Regions from separate parts of the Homo sapiens genome. Here region 2 is linked to region 1. The links come from fine-mapping of genetic effects on gene expression. A gene starts in region 1. The other region holds a variant in brackets. All regions are shown on one strand. Distances are between the middles of the regions.

Region 1 (4,392 bases):
AATAGGCATGAGCCATCATGCTGGCTTTATTTCTTAAAATAAAAATTTTAGCCTCAATTAACAGGTTGCCCCCTATAGCAGTTTGAAAAACACTGTTTTAAATTGTATACATTCTTAAATTTAATATATTGAACTAAATTTTTAGAAAAACTCACTTCGATGACCTGAATTTTCCTCATTTTACCACAGACCAGTTAAAACTTTGTCAAGGAGTTTGAGATCAATAAACCAGATCTGGCTAAAAGAGGTCTGAGGTGAATCCTTTTATTAGGTTAAGACTCTTCTTATTAAGCAAACAATTATTCTTTAGCTTCCTTTTTAGGTTGGGATGTTCACACACTAAGCCAGTGGGAGAAGGTAGGTCAACAGTGCTTCCATAAACAGTGATACACGATGAGGCTCTCTTGACTTGTGCCACAGTAATTCTCTTCTAGTGATTTTCTAAAAGCCCTAGAGAGGAAAAAAATCCCATCTCCTCTAAGGACTGCCTTCCACAGGAAAGCAAAAAGAGGGAGAGAAGAAAAGCAGATCTGGCACCTGGGTACTGTGGTAATAGGGGATGTACTGGCAGGTAAAAGGAGTCCTGCTGCAGCAGAAGGTAGAGGAAAGCTAATCTTTCCAGCCAGGCTTTTGGCAGGCAATGAGCCCAGATAGAGATGATCGCAGCAGTTGTTCATTTCCAGGCATGAAGAGTGCAGCTGCAGACAATCAGCAGGTAAACCGCGGTGCAGGTGGAAAGCTTTCGAGTCTCTGGACACTGCAAAGTACTGGCAAAAGCAAAGGACTGTACTCTCAGAGCCTTTGCCTGAAGAAGACTTGACAGGTGGGGAACAGATTGCAACTTTAGAAGGGAGACCCAGGCAGAGACTTTTATTCCCCCCATAGAACATATCATTCTGAAATTATTTTATTTATTTACTCACAATTTGTCTCCCCATGGGCGAAGACCCTATCTTGTTCACTGATATATCCCTGGCACCTAAAACAGTGGCTGGCAGAAAGTCCTCGATAAATAATTGTTGAATTAATGAATGGCTCATCTCCCCAAAAAAACATTTGAACGAGAACAATGTCTCTGTGGGGGAAGGAGGTACAGGGTGCCCTAAAAGACCAGACTCATCTTGAAGTAGGGAGGGAGATGATGTGGCGGGTATCATCTAGCAAGACAGGAGGGCTGAGCTCTCTGCCTCTGCAAGGTGGTGACTTTGGGCCAGTCTTTTCATCTCCATTTCTACCTTGAAAAAAAATGAATGGATTCCTCCTACTCTACCTACATCAAAATGTAAAGCATACATGAAATCACTTTGGAAACTGAAATGCTATTCAAATGGTAAGGCAAGGTCTGGGATGCCAAAAACCTGGTTTCTAGTACCAGCTCTGCCACTTGATGATGATGATGATGATGATGATAGCAATATACTAAGAGTTACTATGTACTGACTAATTACATGCATTGTGCCTGCACTGTGCCAAACATTTTATAGTCAATTATCTCATTTTGACTTTATCACAACCTTCTGAGGTAGGCAGTGTTAATCTCATCTTACAGATGAAGAAACTGGAGCTCAGAGAGGTTCCGTAATGTGCCGAAAATCACACAGGTAGTAAATGATAGGGCTAGGAGTCAAAACCTGGTCTGACTACTCCAAAGTCTGGTGTTCTTGACCACCAACTATGCCAGATGTCTGATCTTGGGCAAGTCACTCCTCTTTTTTTTAGGTCTGTAAAATGAAAGGGTTATACCAGATGATATCTGCAGACCCTGCCACATCTGATATTTTGTCGTCTATTCTGATCCCCGCTCAGATCCAACTGATGGGAACTGCCTCAATGAGGGGATAGGGAAGTGATAATAATTCAACGCTTTCATCTTCATAGATAGGGTTTCTTTTTTCAGGAGAGGAGGAAGAGATCGAAATATTCACACTCCTATCTGTATCCTGCGACTGCTCCCTCCAGATAGCCACTCCAGGACTGCCCCTGCCTGAATCCCGTCTCGCTCAGCCCTCACAGGCAGGGGCCTGATGTCCGCGGAAGGCGCTCCCGAAACGGCCTAAGACTTACGGGGGGAAGGGGACGGGCAGGGAACGGGCAGAAGTCCCTCGGCTGGCCCAGGGGCCCGCCGCAGGCAGCCTGGGAGGGGGACTGCGGTTGCCCCACTCGCCAATCCTGCTTTCCTGCGGCTGAGCTCCAGCCTCCCACCCCTCAAGCCAGTCACTTAACCTCTCCGCTCCTGTTCCCCCGTCTATAAACTGGGATCGGAATTTCTGCTTCAGGGGGCTGCAGCGATTAAGTGAGATAAATATTTGGAAAGTATCTGGTCCGCTCAATACCGCGCTCATCTTCGCGCAGCGGGGGAAAGCCAGAGGGCTAGAAAGCCCCCAACCCGCGGCAGGAGACGGGCGGACACTGGTCCGGGCCAAAGAGCCCAGAGTTCAGCCGCTAGGACCCCGCAGGCGCCCACTGCGCGGGGCTGATCGAGCGCGCCGAGGGCTCCGGGGCCGAGGCCGAATCACCTCAGCCGCCGCTTCCCGCCGGCGGGCGTCTCCGGGCCCCAGCCGAAGCTTTCCGGGCTCCTCACCTCTGACTCCCGCCGCTGGCTTCGGAACGCTTCGCGGCCCTTGGGCGCCGCCTGCTTCCCTTTGCCGCCGCCGTTGCCATTGCCATTTGCGGGCGGGCCCCCGGTCCCAGGCGCGGCGGGGTCCTCCATGCTGCTGGTCAGCGGCTCCCCTCAGGGTTCAGCTCGCTTTGCCGGAGGCGACCCTACCGCCGCGCGCCGGGAGCCAGGCCCCGCCCCCTCCACCTCTATTGGTTACGGCAGCTCGCCGCAACCCCGCCCCGCGAGGCGATTGGCTGCTCGACCGGCCGGAGCGGGACTCGAGGAGGTGGGGGCTCAATGAAGAGATTTTTGAGGGGATCTTTTTAGTCCTGCGGCATTGCTGGCGGACGGAGACTCCTAGGTTAGCTACAGGCTCCACACCTCGCGAAAGCTGGGCCTTGAGATCAGGCGGGTTATCTCTGTGCTCCTCACTCGGTGTCTCTCAGCTCTCACCCCCGTCCCTGTAGCGACCTTTTCCGGAGCTCTAGTCTCCGCCTACTGCTCCACAGCAGTCTCCGTTTCCCTGTTACCACCGACCCGGCCCCCCATATCCCGGCTCCTGCACACGTCCCATATCCCGCTTAGTCTCAGGGGAGGGATGGCACCGCCAGGTGGCCAGGGACATCGCCCGAAACGAGGGACTCGCTGTCTCTGGAAGCTGAGAATTCTCAGCGTTTTTCTGAAGAGAACGCATCTCGCCCGGAGCTAGGGCTTGGCTGGGAGACTGGAGGTCTAAGGGTGGGATGGGGGAGTTTTTCCATCACTGAAATTGGTGGTGCCCTCGAGGGCTGCTCCTGTCATCTGCCCTTCTCTGCTGTAGGGGGCCTCTTCCTCATGGTGTGTAAATGTTGAGGGTAGAGCAAGCCCCCACCCTCACCTGCTCGCCAGTCCTTTCTTTCCTTCCTCTCTCTTAGATGCTTCCTAAGGGCTCATTGTTACTGGGGGCAAAAGAGGCTGTTTGATCTGCCCTCTCCTGAATTTAAAAAGTAGCTTGTAGTAAATATTTAGACAGTCTGGCTTGGTAATAGAAGCCCCAAAGACGTAGGCTCAGGGGAACAGGTGGGACCAAATCGCTGTCCCCAGCCTGGTTGCTTTAGGAAGGGTCTGGGGGATTGTTGAACTGAGCTTGGTGCCAGGCACTGCAGTAAGCGCTTTCCAAATATCACATCATACCTCTCCCCGACAGGGTGTTTTTACGAATCCAATGTTACTGATGAAGAAACCGGCACTTGCAGATTCCTCCCTGCGGTTTCCAAGGTATCATATTCTATCTTGTCTCAGGGTCTTGCCTATGCTGTTCTCTGGAGGAGACTGTCTTCTGTTCTCCTGGTTGATTCCTTTTCTCTCATAAAGATTCTAGTTAGTTGTCACCTCCTCCTCCTCCACAAAGCTTTCCTTTTAGCCCTCAACTCATTCAGGTTGTGTTGGTGTCAAACCAGTTCTGCCTAGATCCAAAATCCTAACATTTTCCACGATATACCCAAAGCAAAGGGCCTAGAGGAATTACTCCACCTTCCCATACCTTAGGGACAACCCTGTCCCTTTCTTAACATCTCTCTCTCTCTCTCACTTTTCCCTTTGCCAGTTCATAGGCGACAGAACAAGGCAAGTTTGAGAGCACTCTTTGGAGCTTTTTGGGTTTTCTCACCCTGGTCCAATATCTCCTTACTGTACCTTCACATCTTCCTTTTCCTCTTCCAGTCCCACTCCTCTCCCCACCCACATATAGGCTCCTAGCGAGTAAGACCAAATTTAGCTCATTTTTGTATGCCCCTAATTTATGTACGTTTAAC
Region 2 (4,392 bases), 350 kb after region 1:
TATCTGATAAAGGATGTGTATCCAGAATATATAAAGAACTTTGGAAATCAAATAAGAGCAAAGAATTCAACTTTTTTTCAAAAAGTAGGCAACAGATCTAAACAGTTATTTCACCAAAAAAATGGATGGCAAATAAGCACATGAAAAGATGTTCAACATTATTCACATTAAGGAAATATAAATTAAAATCACAATCAGAAACTACTGCATACCTATTAGATGTCTGATTAAAACCATGTGTTAATAAGAGTGCAGAGGAACTAGAACTCTCATACACTGTTGGTGGGAATGTAAAATGATAAAACCACTTTGGAAAACAGCTGATCAGTTTCTTAAAAAGTTAAACATACTTACCATATGATCTAGCCTTTCCACCTCTGTGTATTCACCCAAAAAAAGCACATATTCATACAAAGACTTGCACACAAATGTTCATAGTAGCTTTATTGTTTTCTTCCTCAACTTTATTGAGGCATAATTGACAAATAAAAATCATAGCAGCTCTTTTTTTAAGAGATAGGGTCTTGCTATGTTGCCCAGGCTGGACTCGAACTCCAGGGCTCTAGTGATCCTCCTGTCTCAGCCTCTCAGGTAACTGGGATTACAGGCAGGTGCCAGCACACCTGGCTTGAAGCTTTATTTTTTAATTTAATTTAATTTAATTTAATTTAATTTAATTTAATTTTTTGAGACGGAGTCTCACTCTGTCGCCTAGGCTGGAGTGCAGTGGCATTATTTTGGCTCACTGCAAGCTCCACCTCCTGGGTTCACGCCATTCTCCTGCCTCAGCCTCCCAAGTAGCTGGGACTACAGGTGCCGGCCACCATGCCCGGCTAATTTTTTGTATTTTTTAGTAGAGATGGGGTTTCACCGTGTTAGCCAGGATGGTCTTGATCTCCTGACCTTGTGATCTGCCTGCCCCGGCCTCCCAAAGTGCTGGGATTATAGGCGTGAGCCACCGCACCTGGCCTGAATTTTATTTTTTATTTTTATTATTATTTTTTATTTTTATTTTTATTTTTTGAGACGGAGTCTCGCTCTGTCGCCCAGGCTGGAGTGCAGTGGCGGGATCTCGGCTCACTGCAAGCTCCGCCTCCCGGGTTCACGCCATTCTCCTGCCTCAGCCTCCCAAGTAGCTGGGACTACAGGCGCCCGCCACTACGCCCGGCTAATTTTTTGTATTTTTAGTAGAGACGGGGTTTCACCGTTTTAGCCGGGATGGTCTCGATCTCCTGACCTTGTGATCCGCCCGCCTCGGCCTCCCAAAGTGCTGGGATTACAGGCGTGAGCCACCGCGCCCGGCCGAATTTTATTTTTTTTAGAGATAGTGTCTCGCTCTGTTGCTCAGGTTGGAGTACAGTGGCATGATCGTAGCTCACTGCAGCCTCAAAATCCTGGGCTTAAGTGATCTTCCCACCTCAGCCTCCTGTGTAGCTGGGATTACAGGTGCAAGCCACCATGCTGGGCTAATTTTTAAATTTTTTGTAGAGATGGGGTCTTGCTATATTGCCCAGGCTGGTCTCGAATTTCTGGCCTCAAGCCATCTTCCCATCTTGGCCTCCCAAAGTGCTGGGATTACAGGTGTGAGTACTTCACTGGTCTGCAGCTTTATTTTTAGTAGCCAAAAATAGGAGCCAATCCAATGACTCAATAAATGAATGGCTAGACAAACTGAAGTATATTCATATAATGGAATGACCTCAGTAAGTGAACATTTTTTCAGTAACAGCTTTATTGAGATATAATTCACATAGGTAAAAATTAGCCATTTTAAATATGTAATTTTGTAGTTTTTAGTATATGTACGGGTTGTGCAAACACCATCACAATCAATTTGAGAATATTTGTATTACCCCACAAAGAAATTCTGTACCCTTTAGCAGTCACCTTCATTGCCCCCAGCCACCCTCACTCTGACCTGGGCAACCACTAATCTACTTTCTGTCTCTATTTGCCAATTCTGGACATTTCACATAAAAATGGAATCAGGCTGGGCATGGTGGCTCACACCTATAATCCCAGCACTTTGGGAGGCCAAAGT[G/A]GGCGGATCACTTGAGGCCAGGAGTTCAAGCCCAGCCTGGCCAACATGGCGAAACCCCATCTCCACTAAAAATACAAAAATTAGCTGGGTGTGGTGGCGCATGCCTGTGATCCCAACTCCTTGGGAGGCTGAGGCAGAAAAATTGCTTGAACCCGGGAGGTGGAGGTTGCAGTGAGCTGAGATTGTGCCACTGCACTCCAACCTGGGTGACAGTGACACCCTGTCTGAAAAAATAAAAAATAAAAATAAAAATAAATAAAAATGGAATCATACAATATGTGGGGTTGGTATGTGTGTGTTTGGCTTCTTTCACTTAGCTGAATGTTTTCAAGGTTAATCTGTGTTGTGGCGCGTATCAGTGCTTCATTCCCTTTTATGGCTGAATAATATTTCACTGTATGGATAGACCACATTTTGTTTATCCATTCCTCAGTTGGTGGACATTGGAGTTCTTTTCACATGTTGACTATTATAAATAATGCTGCCATTGGCCAGCTGCCGTGCCTCACATCTGTAATCCCAGCACTCTGGGAGGCCAAGGCAGGCAGATCATTTGAGGTCAGAAGTTTGAGACCAGCCTGGCCAACATGGTAAAACCCTGTCTCTACTAAACAAAATACAAAAATTAGCTGGGTGTGGTGGTGGGCACCTGTAATCCTAGCTACTCTGGAGGCTGAGGCAGGAGAATCACTTGAACCCAGGAGGCAGAGGTTGCAGTGAGCCGAGATCGCGCCACTGCATTCCAGCCTGGGTGACAGAGCGAGACTCCGTCTCAAAAAATAATAATAATAGGCTGGGCGCAGTGGCTTACGCCTGTAATCCCAGCACTTTGGGAGGCCGAGGTGGGCGGATCACGAGGTCAGGAGATGGAGACCATCCTGGCCAACATGGTGAAACCCCATCTATACTAAAAATACAAAAAATTAGCCAGGCGTGGTGGCGCATGCCTATAATCCCAGCTACTTGGGAGGCTAAGGCAGGGGAATCACTTGAACCCAGGAGGCGGAGGCTGCAGTGAGCCAAGATCACGCCACTGAACTCCAGCCTGGCGACAGAGCAAGACTCCACCTCAAAAAAATGTATAATAATAAATAAGGAATAATGCTGCTATGAACATTCATATACTGGCTTTTGTGTAGACACATTTTCTCATTTCTCTTGGGTATATACACTTAGGAGTGAAATTTTGGGGTCAAAAGATACCTCTATGTTTAAATGTTTGAGAAACTGCCAGACTGTTTTCCAAAGTGGCTGCATCATTATACAAGTCCACTCACTAGCAGGGTATGAGAGTTCCAATTTCTCCCTACCCTCACTAACAGTTGCTTTTGTCTGTTTTTTAAATTTTTGTCATCCGAATGGGTGCGCAGTGATATCTCATTGTGGTTTGTTTTTAGTAACAGCTTTATTGAGAGATAATTCAAATAGCGTACGACTCACCCACTTAAAGTACATGCAGTAATGTGGATAGATCTTAAAATAATTAGACCAAGTGAAATAAACCAGACAAGAGTAAGGACTTTTGAATAAAAGCTATGTTAACTGGAAATAAAAGAATAAATATTGTACGATTGTATTCCTATAAAATTCTAGAAAATATAAACCAATCCATAATTACAGAAAGCAGATAAGGGACAATGGGGGGTTGAGGAGAGAGTTTGGGGGAAGTTTCCAGGAAGAAGGGATCACAGGAGGACACAAGGAAACTTTTGGGGGCTGATATTTATTTTTATTATCTTTTTTTTTTTTTTGACAGCCTCTCACTCTATCGCCCAGGCTGGAGTGCGGTGGCATGATCTCAGCTCACCGCAACCTCCACCTGCCGGGTTCAAGTGATTCCTGTGAACCACCGTGCCTGGCCTATTTTCATTATCTTGACTGTGGTCATGGTTTCACGGGTGTATATGTATGTCAAATCTTATCCAATTACACTATAAACATGTAGTTTACTGTATGTCAATTATATCTCAGTAAAGCTATTTTGAAAGAATACAAAGGACTCTACAATATTCTGTCACCTCCCCTTTGTCATGTCACTATACTTTTACCCTGAAAGCTCCCTCCAAACCATATCCCTTAAAATTTATTTATTTATTTATTTATTTATTTATTTTGAGACGGAGTTTCACTCTCGTTGCCCAGGCTGGAGTGCAATGGCGTGATCTCGGCTCACCGCAACCTCTGCTGCCCAGGTTCAAGCAATTCTCCTGCCTCAGCCTCCCGAGTAGCTGGGATTACAGGCACCTGCCACCGCACCCAGCTAATTTTTTTTGTAGTTTTTAGTACAGACGGGCTTTCACCATCTTGGCCAGGCTGGTCTTGAACTCCTGACCTCATGATCCACCCACCTA

The links. PIP is the estimated chance that this variant, and not a neighbour inherited with it, causes the effect. A credible set is the group of variants that fine-mapping cannot tell apart.
Region 2: its variant is the best candidate, but not a certain one, in a credible set for the expression of STRIP2 in unexposed skin (GTEx, PIP 0.89).

Annotation. Positions count from the first base shown.
Region 1 is chr7:129,432,791-129,437,182 of GRCh38, reverse strand. It overlaps STRIP2 (striatin interacting protein 2), which reads right to left and starts at 2,751. Exons shown (of 21, transcript NM_020704.3): 1 at 2,582-2,751. The coding sequence starts at 2,710. RefSeq lists a silencer at 2,392-2,871.
Region 2 is chr7:129,084,414-129,088,805 of GRCh38, reverse strand. No RefSeq gene overlaps it. Among named protein-coding and RNA genes, the nearest start is that of TNPO3, 31 kb to the right of the region's middle. The variant G/A (reference allele first, on the strand shown) is at 2,042.